Linked DNA regions of Homo sapiens. The protein of the gene in region 2 purifies or fractionates together with the protein of the main gene of each other region. This does not show direct contact. Each region holds a gene or a part of one and is shown on either strand. Other genes may lie near its edges. The genes, in order: SEC13, NUP133, NUP160 and NUP98.

Region 1 (7,551 bases), on a different chromosome or scaffold from region 2:
ACACCTAGAACCAAAGATATCACTGGTAAATTAACTCATGGCAGTTAGAATACAACCATCTCAAGTTCTTGACTGCATTTGTTTGTTCACTCACTCATTCATTCATTCATTCAGTAAGCATTCATTCTAAGTACCTTCTTTCTGCCAAGCACTGTGCTAGGAACTGGATATACAGACACAAATAAGAGGAACTTTTTGCCCTTGAGAAGCTCGCGAATAATGCTAGTGTCGCAAGATAAATTATTTAATGGTGGTTTGTGTGTCCTGTAGGAGCCTGAGGGGCTGGGGTGGTAGACACGAATTGAGCCCTAGATGATGGGTAGGAATTTGCAGGTGGCACAGGGGAAAATACCAGTCCAAGCAGCCAAGCAGAGGGAATACACGAGTAGAGACAAAGAGGTCTGAGAGAGCCTGATGTGTGTGGGGAAACGGCAAGCAGTCCTGGCTACCCTTAAGGTTGAGGAGAGACCCCAAGGGAGCTACAGCTGGTGTTCCTTTCCTGGATGACAGAGCCTCTGATGTTCCAGGCAGTTTATGCATAACGGGGTTATTACTTCAGACTGGGAGACTTGATTCGAGTGTTTCCTGAGGCTGCTCCCTGGTCCGTCACGTAGTGGGATCCAGAGTTGAACAGTTTGTAGGGCTGGAACATGGTGTCATGGTCATCTCCCTCCTATCTATTCTTTGAGGTCCAGCTCAAAAAGGGCCATCCATCACCTTTCTTGAAGATTCTCAGACCCTCAAATGGCTGGACTCTCTTGCATATCTTCAGCAAGGAACACATACAACACTTTATGCTGTTTCTTCTCCCCACTAGAAGGTGAGCTCCTTGGAGCCATGGTCTGAGCCATCTGCAGTTTCAAATCCCCTCAAATCATCCAGCACAGTGCTTTGCAAATAGAAGGAACTCAGCGACTATTTGCTGAATGAATAAGTAAATGAACAAAAGCTGTTATTTTTTTTCTTTGCTCAACCACTCTTCTCTTAAATTCTTGGGATAGAAAAGAGGACTTAAAAGAAGTTTCAGTGTGGAACAGACATTTCTTACCATTTTCCCCATTTCATCTTTTCCAGCACAAGCCCTGTAGGTATAAAGTTTGACTTGTGATTTCAGAAAGGCAGACAGTGGAAGAGGATGGCTGCAAAGCAGTTCAAGAGGTACACACCAAGTAAGCACAGGTTCTCTCATCAGATTCTAGACTCTCTAAAAACCAGGTCCCCGAAGTCTGCAAAGGCAAGTAAGGACAATAAGGAGTTTCCTCCATGTGCCGAGCTGTATAGGTTACAAAGTGCACAGGAAGGCGGGGAGGGCAGGGTACCAAGGGCACAGTCAATCAGAGACCTGCGACAGACTAAGGAAATGAAGAAGCCCAGAGAAGAGAAAGCACTTGCCAAAGTCACAGAGCTAGTTCAAGGCAGACCTGGGAAAAGAGCCCCATCCCCTAACCTTCTAATGCTGAGTCCACAAAACTTCACTCCACCAGGCTGCCTGTCTAGAATGTAAAGCAGTTGTTACACTGAGTTCTGTAAAGCTGCGGTTAAGTAGGTTCACGAAGAAAGTTTACTGAGAGGTAGTTTCAACCAGGTTACCAAAGGACCTTAGAAATAATCAGCATTTAATTCTAACCACTCTCACCCACCAGTCAGGGTTGATGAACCACACTTCTGAATGAGAGAGAGAGAGAGAGAGAGAGAGAGAGAGAGAAGGCGGGGGGGGGGGGGGGGGAGGAAAGAGGGAGGGGGAGAGAAAAGGACGGAAGGAAGGAGGAAGGGCGGGAGAGAAAGGGAGAGGGAGAGGAAGGGGGGAGGAAGAGGGAGCGGGGAGAGAGAGAGAGAAGAGAGGGAGGGGGAGAGAGAGAAAGGGAGAGGGAGAGGAAGGGGGGAGGGAGAGGGAGTGGGGAGAGAGGGAGGGTGGGGAGAGAGAGAGAGAGAGAGAGAACTTCTTAGAGTACTTCTTCCCAGGGACCTGGTATTATCTGGTCCCTGTTAACACCTGCACTCAAAATAATTCACCTCTTTGAGATCAGATAATGAGTTAAAAATTCATTTAGGATGAGCTGAATGTCAGAGCATAAAAGCCTCAACTCTAACCTGCAGTGGAAGAGCCAGAGGTGAGTGATTTACACCTAACCCTCTGCAGAACAAGAACACAGTGTTCTGATTTCTAGGTTCCTGCAGGTTCCCTCAAACCTGCTGCTGAGACACACCCATGTTTCTAAAAGAATGCATGTACTAGATATTCCAGGCTCAGCCCAGATACTTCCATTCTTTAGTTCTCCTTCAGTCATTCATTCACTCAAGGAGTAAGTGTGGAGTGAATGTACACTGCAGATGCCACAGAGACTTAAAAAACCCTGAGCCCCTGCCTTCGGAGGGTCGTTCAGGCCATCTTTACGTTTCCCGAGGTGCCCATCCTACCTGGGGGCCCTACCCCGAGCAACAGTTCAATCATCTCTGCTGGGAGCTGCAGTAGGCGGCAGAAAGGAATGGTTAGGAGGGTTCAAATCTCGGCTCTACTACCACTTAAGCAGCTGTGCAAGAGGCTCCACGTCTCCGAACCTCAAGTGTCCTCATCTGTAAAGTGTTGAGAAGAATAGCACCTTCTTCACAAGGCTGTTAGCAGGCGGAGATTACGAACAATGCTGAGGGCTCGGTATACAGTAGCTCCTCTGCTGTTCCTCGTTTTGTTTTCAATTGTTGACCGAAAAGAAGGAAGGGAGACTGGCAGGAGACGCAGGAGCGGCGCGCCCCGCAAAGTCAGGGAGGTTCCTCGGCCTCACCTCTGGACTCCCCTCGGAATGGTCCGCAAGGACGGGGCCAGAGCCCCCCAAATCTCTAAGCGGTGGAGGGGAGCTGAACGGCTCCAGCTTGGGATTTGGGACTCAGGACGGCCGAGGAACCCGTGAAGGCCGCGACCGTGGCCTTCACCCTGCTAGGCCTCCTCAGTACCAACACTCACCATGATTGCGGCGGTGGCTGCTCCAGGTCTCGGACGTGGCAGCTCCCGGCGGCGCCTCGGAACAGCTCACTTCCGGCGCCGGGCCCGACGGGCCGTGGCGTAGGAGCCTCCGGGCAGCAACGCGCTCGGCTCGCACAGCAGTTCCGCGCCTTCCAGAGGGCGCGCCCCGCCCTCCCGTGGCCCAGCCCCTATCCTCCAGTGACGTGCGAGACCAGAGGGCTGGGGCTCTGGTTGCCGCAGTTACCCTGACCCGGAGGGCTTTGGAATCTGAAGCTCTGGTGGGTCTACTCTCCCGACCAAGTCTGCCCTTTTCCTGAGATCCATAAATGAAAGAAAGGATTAATATAACTATCGGCCGGGCGCGGTGGCTCATGCCTGTAATCCCAGAACTTTGGGAGGCTGAGCTGGGGGGTGGATCACCTGAGGTCAGGAGTTCGAGACCAGCCTGGCCAACATGGTGAAACCCCGTCTCTACCAAAAATACAAAAATTAGCCGGGCATAGTGGCGCGCGCCTGTAGTCCCAGCTACAGGCTGAGGCAGGAGAATCGCTGGAACCCGGGAGGTGGAGGTTACAGTGAGCCGTGACTGCACCATTGCACTCCAGCCTGGGCAACAGAGAGACACTCTTGTAAAAAAGAAAAAAATCTATCTATCTATCTATCTATCTATCTATCTATCTATCTATCTATCTATCATCTATCTATCTGCAGCTTCACCCGCCTCACTACGGCTCTGGGTGCGACTGGTCTTATGATGAATGTTGTAGGATGAGTGACATCTTAGGAGTAAGTAGACTGTCCTAGTGCTTCCTTGTTGTAGTCTCCCTCTCAGTACCCAAGGACTGGGACCAGGGCAGAGGAGGCCAGGGAATGCCCCTCGCCAGAGGCTGGGACCTCTGGCCCTGCCATCCCTAACCCCTATATAGGACTGCCCCTTCCAAACCGATCCCCTGGGGTCCTGAGTAAGTCCCATCAAGGAGACCCCCCTAGGCAATGAAGGATCTCAGCCAGGCTCCTGCAGCTAGAGCCCCAGACCTAATCCTCAGGGTCCCCAACCCCAGGTCTCTGGCTTCACAAGGTAGGGCAGCTGAAGGCTCCCCACAAGCGCAGTGAGAATGCCACACTGGAGGACAGAGCCTGGGCTCCCCGCCTCAGCCACATATGGTCTAGCCCTGGGCCCCTTGTGACATTAAGGAGGCAGATGAGCTGGGGGAGGCCTTGGCTCCCCTTGGGCAAGTCACAGTCCTTCAGTTTCCTCTGCTGAAACTGGGAGTAAGGACCCTAGCTGGAGATGGTCACTGCTTGAAGGAAGATGTTAAGGCTCAGAGAATGTGATAGACCCAAACTGTCAAGGAGCTTTGGAGGGGAGGCCAGGGGAGTAGGGTGTTAGAATTAAGGGCCAGGCCTCTGGGCAACTCTTCTACCCCACTGCAGCTTTCAAGATTTTTTATTGCCCTCTAGTGGAGAAATTGTTGCAGGGGTGTGAGGGGGTGGTGGTTAGGTTAGAGCAGGGAACAAAGGCAGGTTTCAGGGGATCTCTTGGATCTCCTGTTGTTTTTTTTGTTTTTTTTTTTTTGGAGATGGACTCTAGCTCTGTTGCCCAGGCTGGAGTCCAGTGGTATGATCTTGGCTCACTGCAACCTCTACCTCCCGGGTTCAAGCAATTCTCCTGCCTCAGCCTCCTGAGTAGCTGGGATTACAGGCATGTGCCACCATGCCTGGCTAATTTTTGTAGTTTTAGTAGAGATGGGGTTTCACCATGTTGGCCAGGCTGGTCTCAAACTCCTGACCTCTGGTGATCTACTCTCCTCGGCCTCTCAAAGTGCTGGGATTACAGGTGTGAGCCGCTGCGTCCTGCCAGATCTCCTGTTCTTCAAGGAACAGGCTCTGGCCTTGGCTCTATAGCTGCACCACTGACTTTCTAGGTGATAAGGCCAAGTCACTTTTCTCTGAGCCTCACTTTCTTTGAGTGGAAAATGAGGACAAGGGCATATTAGATGTAAATATAATGCATCAGGCATAATTGTGATTAAAAGAATTTCCTTGTGTAGACACTGATGTTGAAGAGATTGGGGATTTGTGACAAGCAACAGAACTGTATCTTATTCATTAAGGTATTTGCTGTAAGGTATTTGGCCCATAAGGCGCTGTAATATGGCAGTTTAGAGTACAGATGCTGGCATCAAGACTGCTAGGTATCAGTGCTGGATCTCCTGCTTACCAGGTGGGCATGCTCTTCACCTCTTTGAGATGCTGTCTCCTGCTCTTTTGAGTGAGAATTATAATAATACCTCCTCTGAAGGTTGATATTGGGATTAAATGAACCCTTGGATATGAAACTGCGTATGGAAGTCAGATGGGCCTATGGCGCTTGATTTGGGGATCAGTTCAACCTAAGAAGAGCTGTGTGAGTGTGTGAGTGTGTGTGTAACTCTCAACCCTTGGGCCAACCTTAGGGATTACTTGTTGGTCTGGGCATATTCTCTTTCTCTGCCAATGTTCAGCAGAGGTTTGTGAAGTCCAGACTCCTCAGGTGCCAGGCTTCCCTCTGCCTTACCCCTCTCCCCAGTAGGGGGGTGCCACCTAGATCCAGTGTCTGTATTCCGCATCTCCTCCCTCTGGTTAATCCAGACCCCAAATCAGGCCAACTTTCCCTGATTTTTGCCCCCCCACCCCTTGCCCCCAAACCTCCTCCGCTTCGTCCTGAGGCCCCGTTCCCCAGTCTTCTTCTATGAGATGGTCAACCATTCCTCATAGGTTAATGGCTCATGGCAGGGTGAGCCTGTCTCCCTCAAATGGTGGGTGTTCAAAAGGTGTGATCTAGTGGAAGGAGAGAGACTGCCCGCTGAGCTGTGGGCCCTTGGGCAAAGTGCATTTCCCTCCCAGGGACTCAGTTTCCCCCTGAGTTCAACTCCACGAAGGGCGGGGACCCAGCTGTCCTTCAGAAAAAGGCCTTGTGATGTGTACCGTGTCTGCATTTCCACGTGTGCATTTATTGTTATTGCTCAGTATAGTGTTGAAAAGGCAGACAAATCCCATTAATTACAAAGAGCACAAGCCAAAGATACAGAGAAATAAAGAGTGTACAATAAGAGCACAGTCACTTCCCAGCCCCGATTGTCCCAGAGCCCCCCAGAGCCCGGGCAGCTTACGGAAGCTGGAGGCGGCACCATTCCCTCGCTACTCTATTATAAAATATGTGCACACAAGAGTTAGCAAAGTGTGGTGACCCCCGAGAGGAAAGGTCCAGGAGGGAGAGCACCACAGGCATTACAAAACAGACTTAGGGGGCTGAGAAGGGCAGTCCCAAAGCAGCCTCCAATATTGTTTTCAGTGGAGGGGGTGATGGCTGCTGCCTGGGGCTGGGGACCCTCCTCCCCCACCTGGGTTGGTATGATCTCTACATTAAAATCAGGAGAGCTTGGTTTGGAACTTTGAAAAGGCCTGGGGACTTCCTGCTATTGTCTGACTTCCCTCCTGGCTCTGGAAGGCCTAAAAGCCTTCAAGAAACGCTCTTCCCTACAAGAGCCTCTAATGGTGGGATTTTGGACACAATGGCAGGAGAGAGATTTGGGTGGGAGGCTTGTCAGAATGCACCAGGTTGGCAGCCTCCTGCAGGTAGCGCAAGAGTGGGCTAGGGGAGTGAGGGTTCCGAGAAGGCCCAGGCAAGAACTGCCTGCATCCCAAAGGTACTGGAGACTCCAAATTAAAGAGCAAGAAACTATCCCCCCAAAACAAAATGAAACAAAAACAACAAAAAACCAGTTCAGGAAAGGGAGATAGGAATAAAGGTTTCTCCATGATGAGAATTAGAAGTGCAGACAACTGGGCCACACATTCTTTCCCAGCTCCAGGCCTAGGAGAGACTCCTCTTTCTCGTCTGGACCAGGGACAGATGGCGGGTCCACCCCAACACAACCAAGGTGGGTGACTTTGGTTCCCAAGCTGAGATTGAGTGGGGGCCTGGTGACCTCTCATGACAACTCCTGGGCTTAGGGGGCAGGTGAAATGATGGGAGGAACAGCAGGCTTCTCTCAAGATCAGGATGCCCTTTTTGTCCCTCTTTACAGAACATAGTCTATTTCACAGCCCTGAGTGGACAGTAATTACAATGGGGGGAAGATGATGGCACAGGGAATGACAGAGCCCAGAATTTGGGGGTGGGAATGGGACAGGGGGTGGAGGACTGGGCACAATTTAAAGTTTATGTGGAAGAATAGATGTGAGAGAATAACTAGGAAATTTTGTAAAAGAAGAGTGAAGGGACTCATCCCACCACATAATAAGACATTAGAAATTGACAATAGTTAAAATTGTATGGCTGGTGCCAGATGAGACACCCAAGTAAGCGAAGAGAAGAGAAGTTCCAGAAATAGATCTAAGTCTATGTAAGACATCAGTGTGTGGTAAAGGTGGCATTTCAGCATGGTTGGGGAAAAGAGTGGCTTCCAACAACTGGAGGACCCAGGACAAGACAGGTTCAGAGTCCTTTGAGCCAGTGCAGTCATTTTAATTGGTCCAGTCTCAGAAATAGGACTGCCTCTCTCTTGTCATCTCTATGCTATGGTTGGGACAAGGGGACAAGGGGCCAT
Region 2 (8,380 bases):
TATTATAAACAATACTGTCTTTGTTATTTGACTTTTTCACATAAATTTCTAAGGTGAAATTGCCAAGTAATTATAAGGCTTTTTAATAGAAATTGTCCTCTTAAAAGATTGTACTTTTACAGTCCCACCAGATAGATATGTAAGCAGTGCTTGTTTCCCCATAGCCTTTTCAATATGAACTGCTACTATTTTATTTTTTTTTTTCTGCCCTGTTGCCCAGGCTGGAGTGCAGTGGCCAATCTCGGCTCACTGCATCCTCTGCCTCCTGGGTTCAAGCGATTCTCCTGCCTCAGCCTCCTGCGTAGCTGGGATTACAGGCGTGCACCCACCATGCCCAGCTAATTTTTGTATTTTTTTCTTTCTTTTTTTTTTTTTGGAGACGGAGTCTCACTCTGTGGCCCAGGCTGGAGTGCAGTGGTGCAATCTCAGCTCACTGCAACCTCCGCCTCCTGGATTCAAGTGATTCTTCTGCCTCAGCCTCCCGAGTGGCTGGGACTACAGGCACGCACCACCACGCCCCGCTACTTCCTGTATTTTTAGTAGAGATGGGGTTTCACCATATTGGCCAGGCTGGTCTCGAACTCCTGACCTCGTGATCTGCCCGCCTCGGCCTCCCAAAGTGCTAGGATTACAGACGTGAGCTACTGTGCCTGGCTAATTTTTGTATTTTTAGTAGAGACAGGGTTTCACCATGTTGGTCAGGCTGGTCTTGAACTCCTGACCTTGTGATCCACCCACCTCAGTCTCCCAAAGTGCTGGGATTACGGGCGTTAGCCACTGCACCCAGCCTATTTACTTTTTGAGATGGAGTCTCACTCTGTCACTCAGGCTGGAGTACAGTGGCACAATATCAGCTCACTGCAACCTCCGCCTCCCAGGTTCAAGTGATTCTCCTGCCTCAGCCTCCCAAGTAGCTGGGACTACAGATGCGCACCACCACACATGGCTAATTTTTGTATTTTTAGTAGAGACAGGATTTCGCCATGTTGGCCAGGCTGGTCTCAAACTACTGACCTCAGGTGATCTGCCCTCATTGGCCTCCCAAAGTGCTGGGATTACAGGTGTGAGCCACCACCCCCAGCCTCTAACATTCCTTTATTAAATTCTTTTAACTACCTAGCCTGAGGGTACCATCTGTTTTCTCTATGATTTTTTTTTTGAGACAGTCTTGATATATATATATATAATTATACTTTAAGTTCTAGGGTACAGGTGCACAACGTGCAGGTTTGTTACATATGTATACATGTGCCATGTTGGTGTGCTGCACCCATTAACTCGTCATTTACGTTAGGTATATCTCCTAATGCTATCCCTCTCCCCTCCCCCCACCCCACAACAGGCCCTGGTGTGTGATGTTCCCCTTCCTGTGTCCAAATGTTCTCATTGTTCAATTCCCACCTATGAGTGAGGACACGCGGTGTTTGGTTTTTTGTCCTTGCGATAGTTTGCTGAGAATGATGGTTTCCAGTTTCATCCAAGTCCCTACAAAGGACATGAACTCATCCTTTTTTATGGCTGCATAGTATTCCATGGTGTATATGTGCCACATTTTCTTAATCCAGTCTATCATTGTTGGACATTTGGGTTGGTTCCAAGTCTTTGCTATTGTGAGTAGTGCCACAATAAACCTACGTGTGCACGTGTCTTTATAGCAGCATGATTTATATTCCTTTGGGTATATACCCAGTAATGGGATGGCTGGGTCAAATGGTATTTCTAGTTCTAGATCCCAGAGGAATCGCCACACTGACTTCCACAATGTTTGAACTAGTTTACAGTCCCACCAACAGTGTAAAAGTGTTCCCATTTCTCCACATCCTCTCCAGCACCTGCTGTTTCCTGATTTTTTAATGATCTCCATTCTAACTGGTGTGAGATGATATCTCATTGTGGTTTTGATTTGCATTTCTTGCTCTGTCACCCAGGCTGGAGGGCAGTGGCGCCATCACAGCTCACTGCAACCTCCACCTTCCTGGCTCAAGCAATTCCCCAGCCTCAGCCTCCCACGTAGCTAGGATTACAGGCACACACCACCATGCCCAGCTAATTTTTTTGTATTTTTAGTAGAGATGGGGTTTCATCATGTTAGCCAAACTGGTCTTGAACTCCTGACCTCAGGCAATCCACCTGCCTGGGCCTCCCAAAGTGCTGGAATTACAGGTGTGAGCCACCACGCCTGGCCTTCTCTAGGATCTTATTTGACAGAGCCTACAAGGCCCTTCATGGTCTCTCCTTATTTCTCCAATTCCCTTTACTTTTAGTCTTTCAGGTTGATTTGTTTGTTTAAAGTCTCTGGCTCTAATCCCAGCTACTCAGAAGGCTGAGGCTTGAGGATCACTTAAGACCCGGAGTTTGAGACCAGCCTGGGAAATATAGCAAGACCCCATTTTTTAATTGTATTTTTTTTAGAATTTAAAATAAAATTTCTTGGGGAGACAGGGTCTTGCTATGTTGCCCAGGGGCTGGTCTTGAACTACTAGCCTCAAGCCATCCTCCCACACCTTAGCCTTGCAAGGTGCCGGGATTAGAGACGTGAGCCACTATGCCTGGCCGTGAGACCCCATTTCTAAAAATATATATATAAATAAAAAATAGGCAGGTGTGGTGGTACATGCCCATGGTCCCAACTCAGAGGCTGAGGCAGGAGGATCACTGAAGCCCAGAAGGTTAAGGATGTGGTGAGCTTTGATCACGCCACTGCACTCCAGCCTGAGCAACAGAGTAAGACCCAATCTCTAGAAAAATCATAAAGTAAAATAAGAATAAATAAAGTTCCTAGAATGCACCAAGTCCTTTGCTGCTTCAGGACCTTTGGCCAAGGATCCTCTGCCTGAAACATTCTTCCTCCTATTCTCTTATGCTTCATGTCTCAGGTTAAACGTCCTTTTCTCCCAGAGACCTTTATAGACCTCCATGCAAAAATAGGTAGCCCCAGTGATTCTCTCTCATACACTTTGCTCTTTTATTTCATAGTACACATCTCAGCTTGTAGCTGGATATTTGTGTTCATTTTTTCAGTGTCTGTCTTTCTCATTGGTCTGTAATCTCCATGAGGGTAGGACCCATGGGCTTTGTTTAGTTATAAGCCTTAGCAATTATCACATAGCCTGGCACATGGTAGGTACTCACTAAATCCATAACGAATGGATGACTTTTAGTGCTGTCTGCTTACTATCCTTCAATAGCCATACATTTGGACTCCAGGCAAGTTCTTGCTCAAAGGTGGCTGACAAGTCATTCTAGCTCCTGCAAACAACAGCTTTTACATTAGGATGCTGGGGAAACCACTAACCAGTCCAACAAAGCACAAGAATAAAATTGATCCCACCAATCCTCTCAGACACAACTATTAATACTCTCTATTGCCTATTTCACACCCCTCCTTGTAAGAATGAAACAGGGAGGAAATGCACTGGGCTCTCAGAGCTATAAGACTCAACAAGCTGCCAAGTTGGGTTAGACACCCAGGTGGGAGAAGGAGTAAAGCAGCTAGCCTATGTAACCTTGGCAAGATGACTGCTCAGATGCCACTGGTGCATAGATAGATGACTGGCTTCCCAGGGGAATGTCAACAACTGACACCCACACTGTGGTCTCCCACATGTGAATACGTCAATGTTTACTTAACCATTCCCTTATTTCAACACACGTTGAATGAAAGTCTACTATGTGTCTGTTACTGTGTGCCACAAAGGTAACAAAGTCACTGCTCTTGCTGTCAAGACATTTAAAAGGAAGTACTTGACAGACAATTATGAAAACAAACTATTATGCAGGATAAAAATACAGTCTACACACAGGAGCAGAGAGGACAAAGGATAAGGGGGACCTAATCCTGTGGAAGGTTTCACTGAGAAGGCAGCACAGAACTAACTTGATGCGGAAGGTAGGCGCCTTCTGGACCAACAAGGCAGGGAGTGCATTCCAGGTGAGAGAAACATGGACATGGGCACTGGAGGGAGATTTGGGTTTTTAAGTTCTCGGAATGTGGAGTGCAAGTGGGAAGTGCTGGAAGTACAACACGGACGGAAAAGCCAACCTGACTTAGATCACATAGGACCTTGCAAAGGAGCTTAGCAAATAACCTACTGGCAATGGTCAGCCACTGAAGCATTTACAGGCCCAAGAGCAGCATTACGTTTGCCTTAATTCATTGTGTTGGCAGTGAGAAGATAGAGTGGAGGAAGACTAGACACAGGTAAGGAACCCTCTCCCCATCTCCCCTACTCCCTCCCGCTGGCAGAAGAGGCTACGCAGTGGTTGAGGGAAAGGTAAGTACCAGAACCAGGGCAGAGGCAGTGCAAATGTGTGATCTAGTACAGACACGTAGGACCTTACAACGTATACCATGATCTTAGGGTGGAGGTAGGTGTGAGGGATGACTGCAGATAGAGCTCTTCTCTTTGCCTTGGACAACTGGCCAGTTTTACCAAGCTGGAACAGAGATGGTGGTAGGAGAGGGGTCCTAAAGGAAAACATGAATGCGCTTTTCATAAGTGGATTGTGAGGAGTTCGCAGGACTTCCAGCTGAAATTGTCCCCTAGGGAGCTGAATGATAGGGGTCTGGGGGTTTTGAGCTGGATCCAGGTTAGAGACACGGATTTGTGGCGTCATCAGCGTGGATGAGACTGCGCAAAGTTGAATGGGAAAATGGCAAACCTAGAAAACAACAAATATCACAGTGCGATACCAGTGTCAGCTTTACGGCTTTTCTCCGTCCTCAGCTTGGAATGAGGAACATCTTTCATTTCACAAGAGGTTCAGGAACTACCAGTGTGAAAAGAGGCTACGTTCAAGCTGCTGGAGGGCCAGTTCCACCTAGGCGCAGTCAAGAAGGGCGCCTGGCTTTCCGGCTTCACGTCCCTGGAAGCTCGGCACTGCAGCGGTTCTAGATCTGGGGCCGCCGGCTGCCTTCCCGACCTACCTCGCTGACTGGGCACCGCCCTTAACGTCACGATCCCGCCCCCGCCAGCGCTCCGACCACAACCCGCGGGAGCCATTGCGTTTGACGTCATCATCGCGCGCCATCTCTTCCCTTAGGTGTTTAAGTTCCGCGCGCAGGCCAGGCTGCAACCTGACGGCCAGATCCCTCGCTGTCCTAGTCGCTGCTCCTTGGAGTCATGTTCCCAGCCGCCCCTTCTCCGCGGACCCCGGGTACCGGGTCCCGAAGGGGCCCGCTGGCCGGACTCGGGCCCGGCTCCACGCCCCGGACGGCTAGCAGGAAGGGTCTGCCCCTGGGGTCTGCAGTCAGCTCCCCAGTGCTCTTCTCGCCGGTCGGCCGGCGTAGCTCGCTAAGCTCGCGGTAAGTGATCTCCCTGGTTGGGTCTGGCAACCAACAGCCTCACGGGCCGCAGTGGGCCGGATAGGTTGTTGTCTTTAGAAGCCTTTGGAACCGGGGCGGCGGAATAGAATGCCACAGTATTGGAAAATAGACCTTTTCCACTGCTGCAGGTAGTATCTGCTTCGTTTTGATTATCAGTTGATCAGTTGATTCCCCACTTTGCATTTTTCATGGATACCTTTGTGCAGAAGTGAAGTACAAACTGGATTTGCATCAGTGTTTACCTACTTCCCACCTACTACCCGTGTGATCTGGTGTAAGTCACTCGTGATTTTCTTCATCTGTGAAATGGCGATAATATATCTCACCTGAGCCAGAGGAGTTATTATGAATTGCCACGATGCAGATGTAAGGTGATGGTGATAATGAGGACCTACAACCCTGAAAGATCATTGTTTAATGCCTAACATACCAACTGACATTAATATCTGATGATTGGTAATTAAAGGGTTTCTAGCTACGGAATTTAACTTTCTAGGTAAATTATAAGGAAAAGGCTTTACATAAGTGAGCTAAGAGTACTGTGATAGTTTAGTTACTAAAACTGCTCGTTTGGAGCACCAGTAAAATCATCACACACACACACCCCTCCCCACCCCCAACACACACCATGTTCATAATTAACCTAAAACTTTAGTGTTTCTGCATAGTTTTCTCTGAATTCATCTATAAAAAATGAATTTTTCCCTGCAGGAAACACAAAGTATTGTGTCTTGAAATTATGGTTAAAATTTATCTGTAAAATTTTTCAGTACTTTAAAGGAGAAGTGGTTTTGAAAGAATACACTGTATCTTTGACTTTTTTTGGCATATTTTGAAAAGTTCTTTTCAAAGTGCTGATCTTGTCAGTGTTTTCTATTCCTTTTGCGAAAAGTTGGAGAATAAAAGCATACTTTATTTACTGTGTGTTGTTTTATTTAAATCTCTTCTTGTGATCATTTGAAGAAAAACCTTTGTTATCCTCTGTCAGGAAACAAAGCCCTTAGCCCTTCTGTATGTGCATCTTCTCATTTAATTCTCGTGATAAGACATAGACTACCTTTTATTCTGGTGACTTTACAATATTCTAAATGTTAAGAGGGTGAGCAAGAAATAAAGTTTTTACTGTGATATCTGCTGTTGAGGACCATGTAACAGCTGATGCTCGTAACCTGTTCGATTTCTTGCTTGGTTGTACAGATCTGATAGTTTTTTTTTTTTTTTTTTTAAAGAGACAGGGTCTCACTCTCTGTCGCCCAGGCTACAGGCTGGTGCCACAATGCCCGGCTAATTTAAAATTTTTTTTGTAGAGACAAGGTCTTGCCACGTTCCCCAGGCTGGTCTTGAACTCCTGGTCTCAAGCAGTCTTCCCGCTTCGGCCTCCCAAAGTGCTGAGATTATAGACATGAGCCACTGCTCCGGCCAGGTCTGGTGGACTCTTAAGCACCTAAAGCTAGATGAGCTTAAATCTCATCTAAGCCAATATTTATAAAATGTATTTGACCACAACATATGGTAAAAGCTGATGTTTTATATTCTGTCTTTCAAAAATGTTGAGATCTGCAAAATGACCCGCTGTTTGAAAAAAAAAAAAAAAAAACACTGGTCTAGTTAAGCCTTATTTCACAGCTAAGGAGGCAGAATTATAAGGAGTTTAAGTGAATACAGGCATGCATTTCAATACTAGAGTCTATGGGATTGAAGCCAAGTTTTCCTAAATCCTGTTTTGTTTTTTTTTTACATGAAAAATATTACATTTAATTACATGGTAAATATGAGCCAGTGTTAATTTTTTTCAAAGAACTCCTTACTGTGAAAATATATACATAAAAAATTAGGATAATGGAGAATTTTAAGTTACAAGTAAGGTAATATAGACTCTTTTCTTTAGGGGAACACCAACACGAATGTTCCCACACCACTCCATAACTGAGTCTGTGAACTATGATGTGAAAACGTTTGGATCTTCTCTTCCTGTTAAAGTCATGGAAGCCCTAACATTGGCTGAAGGTAGGTGTCATCTTTCCATTTACCTATATTAGCAGTTTAAAATGGAGCCTAGATGTGGCATAGAGATTAAATTTATGTTTTCTCTAGTATACCTTTACGTAAATGGTGAGAGATGGGTGGCCTGTCTAGTGTTTTTTTATTTTTATTTTTTCGAGACAGAGTCTCACTCTGTCACCCAGGCTGGAGTGCAGTGGTGTGATCTCAGCTCACTGCAACCACCACCTCCCAGGTTCAAGCGAGTTTCCTGCCTCAGCCTCCCAAGTAGCTGGGATTATAGGTGTGAGCCACCACGCCCAGCTAATTTTTTGTATTTTTAGTAGAGACAGGGTTTCACCATGTTGGCCAGGCTGGTCTTGAACTCCTGACCTCAGGTGATCTGCCCTCCTTGGCCTCCCAAAGTGCTGGGATTACAGGCGTGAGCCACCACATCTGGCCACCTGTCTTAGTTTTTTTTTTTTTTTTTTTTTTTTTTTTTAACTGTAATTGAGATGTATAATACATTCGAGAAGGAGAATGAGTTCATTTGAACACAATCAAATTAAGTCTTTAATGGTTTTAGGTACTGTACAGTAGTCCCCCATTATCTTTGGGGGATATCTTCCAGGATCCCCAGTGGATGCCTGAAACCTTGTATAGTACTAAACCTTATATATACTGTGTTTTTTTAATACATACACACCTATGATAAACTTTAGTTTATAAATTAGGAACAGTAAAGATGAACAACAGTAATAATAAAGTAGAACAATTATAACAATATACCAGCAGCACTACTCTTGTACTTCGTTTGGGGTCATTAACTAAAATGAGAATATAAGCATTGCATTACTGCGACAGTTCATCTGGTAACTGAGACAGCTACTAAGTGACAAACAGCTGGATAGTCTCAGGGGTGTCCAATCTTTTGGCTTCCCTGGGCCACTTGGAAGAAGAATTGTCTTGGGTCACACATAAAATACACTTACGATAGCTGATGAGCTAAAAATAAATAATGAAAAGGTCTGTGTATAAATCTTATCATGTTTTAAGAAAGTTTACAAACTTGTG
Region 3 (7,446 bases), on a different chromosome or scaffold from region 2:
GTTTTGGTTATACTGTTTTAACCTTTTTATTAGGACAGTGAAGGTCTGACTTGGTTCAGATTCAAGAAAACTCTAGGCCGGGCGTGGTGGCTCACGCCTGTAATCCCAGCACTTCGGGAGGCTGAGGCAGATGGATCACGGGGTCAAGAGATCGAGACCATCCTGGCCAACATGGTGAAACCCCGTCTCTACTAAAAATACAAAAATTAGCCGGGCGTGGTGGCACACGCCTATAGTCCCAGCTACTCGGGAGGCTGAGGCAGAAGAATTAATCTCTTGAACCCGGGAGGCAGAGGTTGCAGTGAGCCAAGATTGCGCCACTGCACTCCAAACTGGCGGCAGAGTGAGACTCTGTCTCAAAAAAAAAAAAAAAAAAAGTTTTTGGCTTCAAATTCATTGTATAAGAGAAGCCCAGTGCTTTACAAAAGGATTCTTTGGCCAACGGTAGTGACTCACACCTGTAATCCCAAAATTTTGGGAGGCTGAAGAGGGAAGATCACTTGAGCCCAGGAGTTTGAGAGCAGCCTGGGCAACAGAGGGAGACCCCATCTCTAAAAAAAATAATAATAATAGAAAAATAGCCAGGTGTGGTGGCATGCACCTGTGGTCCCAGCTACTCAGGAGCCCTAGGTTGGAGGACTGCTTTAGCCCAGGAGGTAAAGGGTATGGTGAGCCTTGATCATGCCACTGCATTCCAGCCTGGGAAACAGAGTGACACCCTATCTTAAAAAAAAAAAAAAAAACTGAAAGGATTTTTTAAGGTTACAAAGGCTTCTGGCTGGGTGCAGTGGCTCACACCTGTAATCTCAGCACTTTGGGAGGCCAAGGGGGTGGATTGCTTGAGCTCAGGAGTTCAAGACCAGCCTGGGTAACATGGCAAGATTCCCATCTCTATTAAAACAACAACAAAAAGTTACATAGACTTTTTTTTTTTTTTTCCCTTTGAGGCAGGGTCTCGCTCTGTTGCCCAGGCTGGAGTGCGGTGGCACGATCTTGGCTCACTGCAACCTCTGCCTCCTGGGTTCAAGTGATTCTCCTGCCTCAGCCTCCCAAGTAGCTGGGACTACAGACGCATGCCACCACACCCGGCTAATTTTTGTAGTTTTTAGTAGAGACAAGGTTTTGCCATATTGGCCAAGCTTGTCTCGAACTCCTGGCCTCAAATGATCCACCCGCCTCAGCCTCCCAAAGTGCTGGGATTATAGGCATGAGCCACCACACCCAGCTTGCATAGGCTTCTTTAAATTACTACTTAGCTTCATGGATGGATTTAAAATACAATAACTCATATAATTGAAAATTATATTAGAATATTTTAGACTGACCTCCCACATAAAACAGAAATGCCTTCTGAGGCTTTTGTGATAGTTATTCAGCCTTTAATTGTCTCTACCTCCACTGACCACTTTGTCACTACCTCTTGTGGGAGTTATTATTCCCAAACTGTGTCATTGAAAAGGAAGCCTCTCTTCTATAAATCAACCCTTCAAGTATTTTAAGAATCTTTCCAGGTCACCTTTCTCCAGACTAAATACACCCAGTTTCTTAACTTTCTCTTGGGTGATGTGTGTTCCAGGTATGCCAAATCTCTATTATATAGTTTTATATTGCCTCTATGTCTTCTAAACTGAAACGTTTTCCATTCAGTTTTGGCTATTATATAGAAGTCTAAAATGTCTTTTAATGTTAGATTTTCTGCCGAGGAACTGAGAGGAATTTGGATCTTTCCTGGAGTGAACTGAAGAAAGAAGTTACTTTAGCTGTTGAAAATGAGGTGAGGCTTGGGTAGAGAAAGAATAAGAATTCCTTCCATCTTGATATAGGGCAGATTGGTACTGACCGAGGAATTACTGGAATTCTTCACTTGACCTTGTTTGTTGGAACATATAAATGTTTAAACCTTTTAACTAGAGAATCAGATACACATTTGCATAGTCTATGGCCTTTAATACGTAAGGAATATTCATTTGGCTGTAGCTTAGTATAATGATATTGGACAATTATGTTTTTTGTGGACAAAGATCCTGAATGGCATCAAAAGTTTAATTTCTTTCATTTCTTCTTTGCCAGCTTCAAGGAAGTGTAACAGAGTATGAATTCTCCCAGGAGGAGTTTCGAAATTTACAACAAGAATTCTGGTGCAAGTTCTATGCCTGTTGTCTTCAGTATCAAGAAGCCCTCTCTCACCCTCTTGCCCTACATTTGAATCCACACACAAACATGGTGTGCCTGCTGAAAAAAGTAAGTGAGCTAAAGCATAGAGAAGACCTTCTTGAGACAGTTCAGTGGCTGTTATAACAAAATGCCTTCAGAAAACAAAAAGTTCAGTGGCTCTTGCCGAATGTTAGTCTGGTGAATGTTGCGGTTAGCATTTAGGACTTTGCATTTGTATTTTTTCCCCTAAAATTGTGATTCATTCATTTAAATAGTTTTCTGTGTTATTCTCTATACTTTTTTTGTATTTTATTGTATTTATTTCTTTTTCTTTTTTTCTCTTTTTTTGAGTTGGAGTCTTGCTCTGTCACCCAGGCTGGAGTGCAGTGGTGTGATCTCAGCTCACTGCAACCTCCGCCTCTGGGATTCAAGCAATTCTCCTGAGTACCTGGGACTACAGGTGTACACCATCACACCCGGCTAATTTTTGTATTTTTAGTAGAGGTGGGGTTTCATCATATTGGTCAGGTGGGTCTTGAACTCCTGTCCTTAGGTGATTCACCCGCCTCAGCCTCCCAAAGTGTTGGGATTACAGGCGTGGGCCACCACACCCGGCCTATTTACTTTTTATATTGAAGTAATTTCCAACTTAAGGTAAGAGTTACAAGAATAGCACAAAGAATTCCTGTATACCCTTCATCTGGATTCATCATTTGTTAACTTCCATATGCTTTTCTTCTTTCTCTAAACAGTTTTTCCTGAACTACTGAGAAGTTAGTTGTAGATATCATGCTCCTTTATCCTTAAATATCCTTAAATATTTCAGCATGTATCTAAGAACACAGATATTAAATAACCACAGCCCAATTTAAAAATCAGGTTATTTGATATTGACATAATATTATACAGCTTATATTCAAATTTTGCCAAATATAACATATATATATATATAGTTTATATTCAGATTTTGCCAATTGTGCCCATAATTTTTTTTCCTGATCCAGGATCCAATCTTTTTTTTTTTTTTGAGACAGTCTTGCTCTGTCGCCCAGGCTAGAGTCCAGTGGTGCAATCTCGGCTCACTGCAACCTCCGCCTACTGAGTTCAAGCGATTCTCCTGCCTATCCTCCAGAGTAGCTGGGATTATAGGCACGCGCCACCACACCTGGCTAGTTTTGTATTTTTAATAGAGACGGAGTTTCGCCATGTTGTGACCAGGCTGGTCTCAAATTCCTGGGCTCAGGTGATCCGCCCACCTTGGCCTCCCAAAGTCCAGGATCCAATCTAATATATGTATTTAGTTATTGTGTCTCTTTAGCTTAACCTCAAACTGTTATCAGCGTTTCTTTGTCTTTCATGAGAATGATGTTATTTGAAGACTATGCTTGTTTCTTTTTTTTGTTTGTTTGTTTGTTTGTTTGTTTGAGGCAGGGTCTTGCTGTGTCACCCAGGCTGCAGTACAGTGGCACTCTTTTTTTTTTTTTTTTTTTTTTTTGAGACAGAGTCTCGCTCTGTCACCCAGGCTGGAGTGCAGTGGCACGATCTCAACACACTGCAACCTCTGCCTCCTGGGTTTATGCCATTCTCCTGCCTCAGCCTCACCAGTAGCTGGGACTACAGGCGCCCGCCACCACACCTGGCTAATTTTTTGTATTTTTAGTAGAGACGGGGTTTCACCGTGTTAGCCAGGATGGTCTCGATCCCCTGACCTCGTGATCCACCCACTTCAGCCTCCCAAAGTGCTGGGATTACAGGCGTGAGCCACTGCGCCCGGCCCAGTGGCACTCTTAAGGCTCACTGCAGCTTCAACCTCCCAGGCTCAGGTGATCCTCCCACCCCAGCCTCCCTAGCAGCTAGAATTAAAGCTGTGTGCCACCACACTTGGCTAATTTTTTTTTTTTAGAGATGGGGTTTCATCATGATGCCCAGGCTGGTCTTGAACTCCTTGGCTCAAGTGATCCTCCCACCTCAGCCTCCCAAACTGCTGGGATCACAGATGTGAGCCACTGTGCCCAGCCAAGACTTACACCTATTATTTTATAGAGTGTATTGCAACTTGGGTTTGCCTCATGATAAGATGCACATCTCAATTATTTTATACCTTTAAAATTTTACTGACAAAAATGTAACTGGAAAATTTGTATTTCCAGGGGTACCTGTCTTTCCTTATTCCCTCATCCTTAGTGGATCATTTGTATCTCCTGCCTTATGAGAACCTTTTGACAGAAGATGAGACAACCATATCTGATGGTAATAGTAATTGTTATGTCCATATTTAATCCCCTTCCTATATAAACCCTATGCTTCGTTTCACATGGATACAAAAAATATCGATTGCCACACCTGTCTTGGTCACTTTACCACACCACAAATATTTTAATGAACACTTAAGAGACCAAAGCATCTCTGAGACCTCAGATAGATTTCTTGTCATTTAATTATTAACATTTTAATGTAATATCAATCAATAGATTGTCATTGGCTTAAGACATAAATGTTAACTTTCTCTTATTTGTAGATGTGGACATCGCTCGGGATGTCATATGTCTTATAAAATGCCTCCGGCTGATTGAAGAGTCAGTAACTGTGGATATGTCAGTTATAATGGAAATGAGTTGTTATAACCTACAGTCTCCGGAAAAGGCTGCAGAGCAGATTCTGGAAGATATGATCACTATTGATGTGTAAGGAGAATTAGGGTAAAGTGCATTTCCTAATGGAAATTCAGCATTTTTAGCGCCAAAGTTGGAATTTTAATGTATGTTCCAGAGCGTACAGAATAGTAGCTTAAAGTCAAACTGATGCGCCATGATTCTAAGTACATATTTCTACTTTTAACAGAAAATTTAACACGACTTCAAGTCTAGAAATAGACTTATAAAATATGCTTTAACAATTAACCGAGCTAAAAATTCTAAAAAGCAAAAGTGTTCTTCTCATGTTTGTTTTGTGTGTTGTTTATGAAAAACTGAGAGGAAATTTGCTATGCATAGGGACTGTATCTTATATGCCAGAGTGATTATCTTCATTCCTTTATCTGGTTCTCTTGTTTCATAATGTATTTAGCTTATAGGACATATAGAACTTGCCTTACGTATTCTCGGTAGTAATAAGAGTTTTGTAATTGTCCTTATAGAGAAAATGTGATGGAGGATATTTGTAGTAAACTGCAAGAGATTAGGAACCCAATCCATGCAATTGGACTACTTATACGGGAAATGGATTATGAAACAGAAGTGGAAATGGAAAAGGGATTCAATCCAGGTAAATGACAGAACAACAAATGTGCCTCTTTGATTAAAACAATGATGCATTCAACTCCATTTTTCTTCTTTTTACAGCTCAGCCTTTGAATATTCGAATGAATCTTACCCAGCTCTATGGTAGTAACACAGCAGGGTATATTGTGTGCAGAGGGGTGCATAAAATCGCCAGTACTCGTTTCCTGATCTGCAGAGATCTTTTGATCTTACAGCAGCTGTTAATGAGGCTTGGAGATGCTGTAAGTACTGCTTGAGGGAAAACTTGTAAAATCTAAAACCTGTTATAGGCCTACAAGCACTTAGGAGCAAAATGTCAGCCCTACTAGCACAGATACTTTTGTCTTGGTTCACTGCTTTATTCTCCCAAGCTTGGCCTTATGAGATGCTCTATAAATATTTTTGAATTAAGAATGAATAAGCATTGTAATCCTTGTGAGAGTATAGATTAAGAGCATATATGGAGGGGACGGTGGGGAGGGAGAACATCAGAAAGAATAGCTAATGGATCCTGGGCCTAATACTTAGGTGTTGGGTTGATCTGTGCAGCAAACCATCATGGCACACGTTTACCTACGTAACAAACCTGCACATCCTGCCCATGTACCCTGGAACTTAACAGTAGATTTTAAAAAACATACATGAAGCAGATTGCTTTACTCTTAACCTTTGTATGTGTAGTAGTGGAAAATTTTCCCAAGTTGGCTCTCCCAAAATGTAGTATTATTAGTAACTATGAATGTGGTAAGCATACCCTTTAGTATGGAGGAAGAAAAAGAAAACTCTTTTTTTTTCCTGTCTCTCTCTCTTTTTTTTTTTTTCTTGAGACAATCTTGCTCTGTTGCCCAGGCTGGAGTGTGGTGGCCTTATCTCAGCTCAAGCAATTCTCCTGCCTCAGCCTCCTGAGTAGCTGGGATTACAGGTGCGTGCCACCGTGTCCGGCTAATTTTTGTATTTTTAGTAGAGACAGGGTTTCACCATGTTGACCAGGCTGATCTTAAACTCCTGACATCAGGTGATCCACCTACCTCGGCCTCCCAAAGTGCTGGGATTACAGGCATGAGCCACCTTGCCCAACCTAAGAACTCTCTACAGTGCAAGGCTTACCCTAAACACAGTTTTGAGATGCAGGTTTATCTTTGTGGTCCTCCTAACTCTATTCTGTGCTTTCTTTTTCATTCTGTTCTTCTTAGACCACCAGACTCTTGTTGCTAATATATAGTCCTAATCACCCACCCTACTGAATGTCCCATGCTAAGAAATTATTTTTCTCCCCACAGTCAGACATCCCATTTTTTTCTAAGTCAGTAATCTCATTTGAGCCTGTCAAAGAAGGAATCTAATTAAACCAATTCATATTAATGTGTAAATAGCCAAAAGTCCTTTGGGGCTCCCATTTTAATTCTGACTTAAAATGTATAAATGTACTTATACATTTTAAGTCAGAATGTATTAACTCAGGCTGGGCACAGTGGCTCACACCTGTAATCCCAGCACTTTGCGAGGCTGAGGTGGGCAGATCACTTGAGGCCAGGAGTTCGAGACCAGCCTGGCCAACATGGCCAAACTCCATGTCTATTAAAACAAAAAAGTTAGCGGGGTCTGGTGGCACACTCCTGTAATCCCAGCCATTCAGGAGGCTAAGGCATGAGAATTACTTGAACCCAGGAGGCAGAGTTTGCAGTGAGGCAAGATTGCACCACTGCACTCCAGCGTGTGTGACAGAGCGAGATTCTGTCTCCAAAAAAAAAAAAAAAGAAATTATAAACCCAGATACATCGCTAATGGTAGAATTTCAAGCAAGAGTAAGAAAAAGGCCAGATGTGGTGGCTCATACCTATAGTCCCAGCACTTTGGGAGGCCAAGGTGGCCTGGTTGCTTGAGCCTAGAAGTTTGAGACCAGTCTGGGCAAACCCTCATCTCTACAAAAAAATACAAAAATTAGCCGGGCATGGTGCAGCAAGCCTGTAGTCCTTGCTACTTGGGAGGCTGAGATGGGAGAATTACCTGAGCCTGGGAGGTTGAGGCTGCA
Region 4 (7,446 bases), on a different chromosome or scaffold from region 2:
GTGTATAGCAGTGCAACTGATTTTTCCATGTTGATTCTGTATCCTGTAACTTTGTTGAATTTGTTTATAACTAGTAAGTTTTTTTGTGTGGCATCTTTAGGGATTTCTACACAAGATGTCATCAAAGAACAGAGATAATTTTACTACTTTTCAAAACTGTATTAACTTTTATTTTTCTTGCCTAATTGCTCTGACCAGGACTTGCAGTAGTATATTTGGGAAAAGTGGCAAAAGCAGGCATCCTTGTGTTGCCTTGTCTCACAGGAAAAGCCTTCTGTATTTGAGTGCCTTTATTATGAAAGAGTGTTGGATTTTGGTAAATACTTTTTCTGTATTATGATGATGATGATGATGTGGTATATTCCTTTATCTTGTTAAAGTGGTATGTTTCACTGACTTTTGTATGTTAAGCCATCCATGCATTCCAGAATAAATCTTTTGGCCATGATGTGTAATCCTTTCAATACGCTGTTAAATTCTGCTTCCTAGGGCTCTGTTGATGACTTTTTCATCAATATACTCATCAAGTGGTCTGTAGTTTTCTTTCCTTGCAGTGTCTTTGGTTACTGAATAAGGTAACGCTTGCCTCATAGAATGAGTGTGAAAGTATTCCCTTCTCTTCAATTTTTTGGAAGAGTCTGAGTAGGACTGGTGTTATTTCTTTAAACGCTTAGTAGAATTCACCAATGAGGCCATCTGATTCTAGGTTTTTCTTTTTTGACAAGTTTGTGATTACTGAGTCAATCTCTTTACTAATTATTGGCCCGGCACAGTGGCTCATGCTTGTAATCCCAGCACTTTGGGAGGGCGAAGTGGGCAGATCACCTGAGGTCAGGAGTTCAAGACCAGCCTGGTCAACATGGCAAAACCCTGTCTCTACTAAAAATACAAAAATTAGCTGAGCATGGTGGCGGGCACCTATAATCCCAGCTACTCTGGAGGCTGAGGCAGGAGAATCGCTTGAACCCAGGGGGCAGAGGTTGCAGTAAGCTGAGACTATACCACTGCACTCCAGCTTGGGCAAAGGAGTGAAACTCTGTCTCAAAAGAAGAAAGAAAGAAAAGAAAGAAAGAAGAGAAAGGGAAAAGAAAAGAAGCGGAAGGGGAAAGGAAAGGAAAGGATCGATTGATCTGCTCAGATTTTCTATTTCTTCCTGATTCAGGGTTGGTAGGTTATGAAGATAAATAATTTTCACTACAGCCCTTTCACTTGACTAAGATATTAGAAGCTAGGATCTCACACTAAAATAGAGAGTTAAGTATAGCCACAGCAGAAACAGGAATAAAGCAAAATACTATTAAAAAGAGTTTTTGAAATTAGCAGTTGGACCCAATAAAATCAGGGAGGCTGGGCAGCGTGGCTCACACCTGTAATCCCAGCACTTTGGGAGGCTGAGGTGGGAGGATCACTTGAAATCAGGAGCTCAAGACCAGCCTGGCCAACATGGTGAAACTCTGTCTCTACTAAAAATACAAAAATTAGCCAGGCATGGTGGCGGGCGCCTACAATCCCAGCTACTTGGGAGGCTGAGGCAGGAGAATCGCTTGAACCCGGGAGTCGGAGGTTGCAGTGAACTGACATCATTCCACTGCGCTCCAGCCTGGGCAACAAGAGCAAAACTCCATCTCAAAAAAAAAAAATAATAATAGTAAAATGAAATGAAATGAAATAAAATAGAATAGAATCGAATCCAAGGAATGTAAAAAAATGAATTAAAAAATAAAATCAGGGAAAAGGAGTTCAAAATCACAGTATAGCATTTCTTTGCCATTTATACTTTTAAATCAAAGTAGAGACAATAAATGTACTCTATAGTAAGGAAAGCAAGCTACAGAAGCATACATCTAAACACATTTATGTTTACAGAAAAAAAAATTGTGATTTAGCTGATAATTTTCTGTATGTACATAAACTCTTACCTATTTAGCCCTTCACCCACAGGTGGTTTTTGGTTATCATCTAAGTAGACAACTACTTCTTTCCTCCGGATATGCACAATATCATCCAAATTTAGATTTGTCAAATTCACATCTCCTTCAAAATAGATTGAACCATAACCTATAAATCAGAGCAAATAGTTAAAAATTCATTCTGTATGAAGGCAAATACCTACTTTACAACTATAGTGATTAAACAATCACAAGGAGAAAGCAGTTTTAAGTATTAGTATTTTAAATAATTCAGCAATTCCTAGACTGGTAAGAATGGGGACTTAGGGAGAGTAACTTCAATTACACTGTTATCTGATTTAAAATCTGCATTTTTCTTTTCTTTTCTTTTCTTTTTTTTTTTGGCAAGGTCTTGTTCTGTTGACCAGACTGAAGTGCAGTGGTCCTGTCTCACTGCAGCCTGAACCTCCTAAACTGAAACAATCCTCCCACCTCACCCTCCCAAGTAGCTGAGACTACAAGCACATATCATCAGGCCTGGCTCATTTTCTTTACTTTTGGTAAAGGTGAGGTCTCACTATGTTGCCCAGGCTGGTCTAGAACTCCTGAGCTCAAGTGATCCTCTCACCTCAGCCTCCCAAAGCGCTAGAATTACAGGTGTGAGTCACTGCGACAGGCCTAACATCTGCATTTTTATAAAACTCCCATTAGCCTCAAAACAACCTTCTTAAATCTCTTCCCATTTATCTATAATGACGCTATATAAACAAACCTTCGCACTTGGCCTGGCATATGGGTTAAAATGCCTGAGCTCTTTTTAATACAATATAGCACAGTGGCATTTCCCACAAGAAAATTATCAGTAATAATAACATGAAGTTCATGCTAAGTGTTATACATCTCTTGCCTATTATTCAATTTTCTCAGAAGTTCTTGGTATTTCCAGTATTTTCTTTAATTACAGAAAATTAAAATGACCCAAATAGTTACTAGCACCAAACAGGTATACCTAAGCCCAAAGAATATTATATGGTTCTGTGCTTCTCAGGAGGCTGAGGCAGGAGAAATGCTTGACCCCAGGAGTTGAGATCTGCCAGGCAATGTAGCAAGACCCCATCTCAACAGAAAAAATAAAATAAATAAAAATAAAAAAATTTACATGGTTCCAGTCTTTCTTGTTTTGTTACTTATCAATCAAAGTATTTAAGATTCAGGCCAAGGTGGGCCCAAATGTAGGAAAATGAAGATTCAGCTATCAAAAGCTTCCCCTAATTACAAAAATAAGGTGCAACTCTCTGGCTTAATCACTAAGTGCTAAACTCACACTTACCTTTCCGACCAATAGTGAAATCAGAGACAATGCACTCTCCTTTTTCATTGGTAATTTTAGCAAGGTCATCCATAGATGGAATAGTATAGTAACCAACCTTAGTGAGAATAATACCTGTGACAAAAAAAAAAAAAAAAACAGAAAAAAAAATAACCTGAAATAATCAGCAACTAAATCATCATATAAAGAGAAAATATATCAGAATGAAGAATTTTCCAAACTACTTTTCTACCAAACATGATTCCTAGGAGAAGGGGTGTGTGAGTGTGTGTGTGTGTGTGTGTGTGTGTGTGTGTGAAAAGCTTCATGGTCAAATAGGTTTGAAGAACATACATATGATACATCAAAGAGTCTAAAACTTACAGTAAATAGCCTATTAAACTCTGCTTAACCTCGTGTTTTTCCAGATTTAACCACAGAACATTATTTTCAAAGGACACCCATTAACATCCCGGACTATAAAAGGTATCTCATAAAATACTCTGAGAAAAGCTTAATCAGCTTTTTATTTTATTTTACACACAAGGATACCAAAACCTACAGTGGAAATAACTTGTGTTGGCTTATACTGTAATTTAACAATAGAAGTAGATATAAAACTCCAAACCCAATTCTTCTTGTTTCATTGCCTGTTTTGCATAAACCTCTTTTATTTTTCAAATTTACACTCCCAAATAAAGAGCTAAAAGAAAGATGAAAAATCCAGCCAGGCAAGGTGGCTCATGCCTGTAATCCAAGGACTTTGGGAGGCCGGGGTGAGTAAATCACTTGAGGCCAGGAGTCCAAGACAAGCCTGGCTAACATGGCAAAAATCCATTATCTACCAAAAATACAAAAATTAGCTGGGCATGGTGGCGGGTGCTTGTAATCCCAGCTACTCGGGAGGTTGAGGAAGGAGAATCGCTTGAACCTGGGAGGCAGAGGATGCAGTGAGCTGAGATCACACCACTGCACTCCAGCCTGGGCAACCAAGAGTGAAACTCGGAAGGAAGGGAGGGAGGGAGGAAGGAAGAAAAGAAGAAAGAAAGAATAAATTAAAATAGAAAAAAAAATACCAAAATAAAAAAAGCAGAGCGCTGAAAAACTCAAGGAAAGTAGTGGAACGCTGGTGTGCTTGCTTGCTCTATTCACTCCTTGTCCTACTTGTAGTCAGATATAAGGCTAACTTGCTCTCTGAGAGAAAAGTATTTCAGGCCAACATCAGACCAAACTCCAGCCTCCAGCAACACCCACTTGTATACTTGCTTCTTGGGAAGGGAACTCTAAATTGGGTGGCAGCAAACAAGGTAAATGAAAAAACTAGAATATAAAACTTCCTATTAAAAAGATATATAGTAGCATAATAAATTCATGTAGAGATACATACACAAATACAGATTAAGCACCTGGAATTCTTTTTTTTTTTTTTTTTTTTTTTAGGAGACAGGATCTTGGTCTGTCAACCCAGGCTGGAGTTCAGTGGCATAATCATAGCTCACTGCAACCTTGAATCCTGGGTTCAAGTGATCCTCCCACCTCAGCTTCCGTAGTAGCTGCAACTACAGGTACATGCCACCACACCTGGCTAATTACTTTTAAGTTTATTGTAGATATCAGGTCTTGCTATGTTGCCCAGACTGATTTCAAACTTCTGGGTTCAAACGATCCTCCCACCTAAGCCTGCCAAAGTGCTGAGCCACCACACCCAGGCTACCTGGGATTCTTACTGTCAAAGTATAAACTTCTTTCCTTATGATACTAAGTAACCAAATATATATATATATATAATGGCAATAAGAAAACTAAATATAAATTTTGGAGACACTTCAAGAATACCACAAAACACCCAAAATGGGCTGGGCATGGTGGCTCATGCCTGTAATCCTAGCACTTTGGGAGGCCAAGATAGGAGGATCACTTGAGCCCAGGATTTTGAGACCAGCCCAGGAAACATGGCAAAACAAAAGATGCAAAACTTAACGGGGTGTGGTATCATGTGCCTGTAGTGCCAGCTACTCGGGTGGCTGAGATGAGAGGTCCTGATCCCTGGAGGTTGAGGTTGCAGTGAGCCAAGACTGCGACACTGCACTCCAGCCTGGGCGACAGAGCGACACTGTCTCAAGAAAAAACAAACAAACAAACAAAAAACAATAAGCAATCTATCCGAGTTTACAAAGCCAGGGAAAATATCAGGATAGTCTCTTTGGCTATAAAATTTGGGTTCTTTAGACTACACCAGGATAATTAAAGATGTATCAATTTTCATACTCTAAGGTCCAAAGAGTATGTGAACTCTGAATCAACTAAAGCATAAAACTGTTTAAATATTAAGCTCTCCTATGTGGGATCACATAAAATAATACTTAAAATGCCAAACAGCTGACTTCCATATGTTGAATATCTGCAACAAGCAAGTCATCTCGAATGACTGGTAAGAGATTAAACATGCACCAATCTGAACCTGACCTGCTGGGTGCATATGGTAAGAATTATTTTCTATTTCTTCTCGGTCATCCTGAAGTGACTCATCATGAAAAGACGTTTCTTCACTGCTTCCTTCCAGCCCATTTCGCAAAGCAGCACGCATGTTTAATGCAACAATGGTATCATCCACACTGTTGCTGTTGCTGTGTTTATTTCCAGCACTTTCTGGGGTTTGAGGAATAGGTTTGGCAATAGGGTTAGTATAAAAATGTGAAACAAGGGAATCTTCATCTCCATCCTGCTGGTGATTCTCATCAACAGGTTTGCTTAGGAAACTAAATCTGCAAAGGAAAAGAAATAATACCTTAGCCTCTTGTAGTAGTAATAACAATGATAATAGCTAACTAATACCGAGCCTTTACTAAGTGCCTGGCACTGTTCTGGATAGTTCCATGTATTAAAAATTCACTTAATACTTACTACAGCAGTACTGTGAAACAGATAATTACTATCTCTATTGTATACTCTCCTATATGGAATCAAATAATTGGTTAATTTTAAGATTAAAAACTGAAAAAAATGTTAGATTTTTAAGATTACAATCAACAAAATGTTAAAAAATGCTTTATAAATAATAATAATAATAAAAAACACTAGAATTTTATCCAAAAGAAAAAAAAAACAGGAGTACAAAGGTGTCTATACAAAGGGTTTCTTTTTTTTTTTTTCTTTTTCGTGATACAGCCCTCAGGAGGCCCTGAGAACTTGTGCCAGTATATAAGGATTTTTACTGAAGCACTGTTTTGAGTACAGGAATACCGGATAATCTAAATGTCCACTAACAAGGAACTGGTCAAGTTATCTTACATTCACAATAATGACTTATGCAATCATTAAAAAAGAAAAGACAAATATATTCATACAGATAATGGAAAGGCATTTCTAATAAAATAAATGGAAATAAGCAGGTTACAGAATATATCATTCGTGCATAATCTTTATATAATAAAATATATTTATAAAGAAAGAAATTTCGGCTGGGTGTGGTGGATAACGCTTGTAATCCCAGCACTTTGTGAGGCCGAGGCGGGTGGATCGCTTGAGGTCAGGAGTTCAAGACCAGCTTGACCAACATGGCGAAACCCTGTTTCTACTAAAAATACAAAAAAAATTAGCTGGGCGTGGAGGTGCATGCCTGTAATCCCAGCTACTCAGGAGGCTGAGGCAGGAGAATTGCTTGAACAATTCACATCAGAGGATACAGTGGGCCGAGATCGTGCCACTGCACTCCAGCCTGGGTAATAAGAGCAAAACTCCATCTCAAAAAAAAAAAATAAATAAATAAATTTCTGATATGAAAGAATATATACCTAACTATTAAGAATCACTGTACAAGGCTGGGCACGGTGGCTCACGCATGTAATACCAACGTTTTAGGAGGCCAAGGCGGGCAGATCACTTGAGGTCAGGAGCTCGAGACCATCCTTGGCTAACAAGGTGAAACGCCGTCTCTACTAAAAATACAAAAATTAATCAGGCATGGTGGCGGGTGCCTGTATTCCCAGCTACATGGGAGGGTGAGGCAGGAGAATCGCTTGAGCATGGGAGGCGATCTTGGCTCATGCCACTGCACTCCAGCCTGGGCGACAGAGTGAGACTCTGTCTCAAAAAAAAAAAAGAAAGAAAATCATCACAGACAAAATATCCCTTAAAGGGCTAAAGGGTGTCAAATACATGCTAACCCTGTCCAAAACAAGATACACAAATACCAAAATAGTTCTGAAGCACTAAATCAGAACTCCAATAATTTTAAGGTTTAATGAA

What was found.
Region 1: the proteins of NUP133 (region 2) and SEC13 purify together in Homo sapiens (affinity purification with mass spectrometry; 6 studies listed by BioGRID and IntAct, with this or other methods). This does not show direct contact.
Region 3: the proteins of NUP133 (region 2) and NUP160 purify together in Homo sapiens (co-immunoprecipitation; 4 studies listed by BioGRID and IntAct, with this or other methods). This does not show direct contact.
Region 4: the proteins of NUP133 (region 2) and NUP98 purify together in Homo sapiens (affinity purification with mass spectrometry; 6 studies listed by BioGRID and IntAct, with this or other methods). This does not show direct contact.

What each region holds. Positions count from the first base shown.
Region 1 is NC_000003.12:10,318,091-10,325,641, forward strand, and holds the start of SEC13 (protein SEC13 homolog), read right to left. Parts: upstream 3,023-7,551; 5' UTR 2,963-3,022; coding exon 2,960-2,962; intron 2,952-2,959; exon of another isoform or gene 2,781-2,951; intron 2,575-2,780; exon of another isoform or gene 2,419-2,574; intron 1,227-2,418; exon of another isoform or gene 1,190-1,226; coding exon of another isoform or gene 1,049-1,189; intron 5-1,048; coding exon 1-4. UniProt on the Homo sapiens protein: Functions as a component of the nuclear pore complex (NPC) and the COPII coat. At the endoplasmic reticulum, SEC13 is involved in the biogenesis of COPII-coated vesicles.
Region 2 is NC_000001.11:229,504,993-229,513,372, reverse strand, and holds the start of NUP133 (nuclear pore complex protein Nup133), read left to right. Parts: upstream 1-5,031; 5' UTR 5,032-5,123; coding exon 5,124-5,305; intron 5,306-7,214; coding exon 7,215-7,333; intron 7,334-8,380. UniProt on the Homo sapiens protein: Involved in poly(A)+ RNA transport. Involved in nephrogenesis.
Region 3 is NC_000011.10:47,810,274-47,817,719, reverse strand, and holds part of NUP160 (nuclear pore complex protein Nup160), read left to right. Parts: intron 1-1,690; coding exon 1,691-1,774; intron 1,775-2,070; coding exon 2,071-2,241; intron 2,242-4,304; coding exon 4,305-4,404; intron 4,405-4,672; coding exon 4,673-4,838; exon of another isoform or gene 4,839-4,853; intron 4,854-5,290; coding exon 5,291-5,418; intron 5,419-5,495; coding exon 5,496-5,656; intron 5,657-7,446. UniProt on the Homo sapiens protein: Functions as a component of the nuclear pore complex (NPC). Involved in poly(A)+ RNA transport.
Region 4 is NC_000011.10:3,717,493-3,724,938, forward strand, and holds part of NUP98 (nuclear pore complex protein Nup98-Nup96 isoform 1 precursor), read right to left. Parts: intron 5,964-7,446; coding exon 5,665-5,963; intron 3,334-5,664; coding exon 3,220-3,333; intron 2,059-3,219; coding exon 1,920-2,058; intron 1-1,919. UniProt on the Homo sapiens protein: Plays a role in the nuclear pore complex (NPC) assembly and/or maintenance. NUP98 and NUP96 are involved in the bidirectional transport across the NPC. May anchor NUP153 and TPR to the NPC.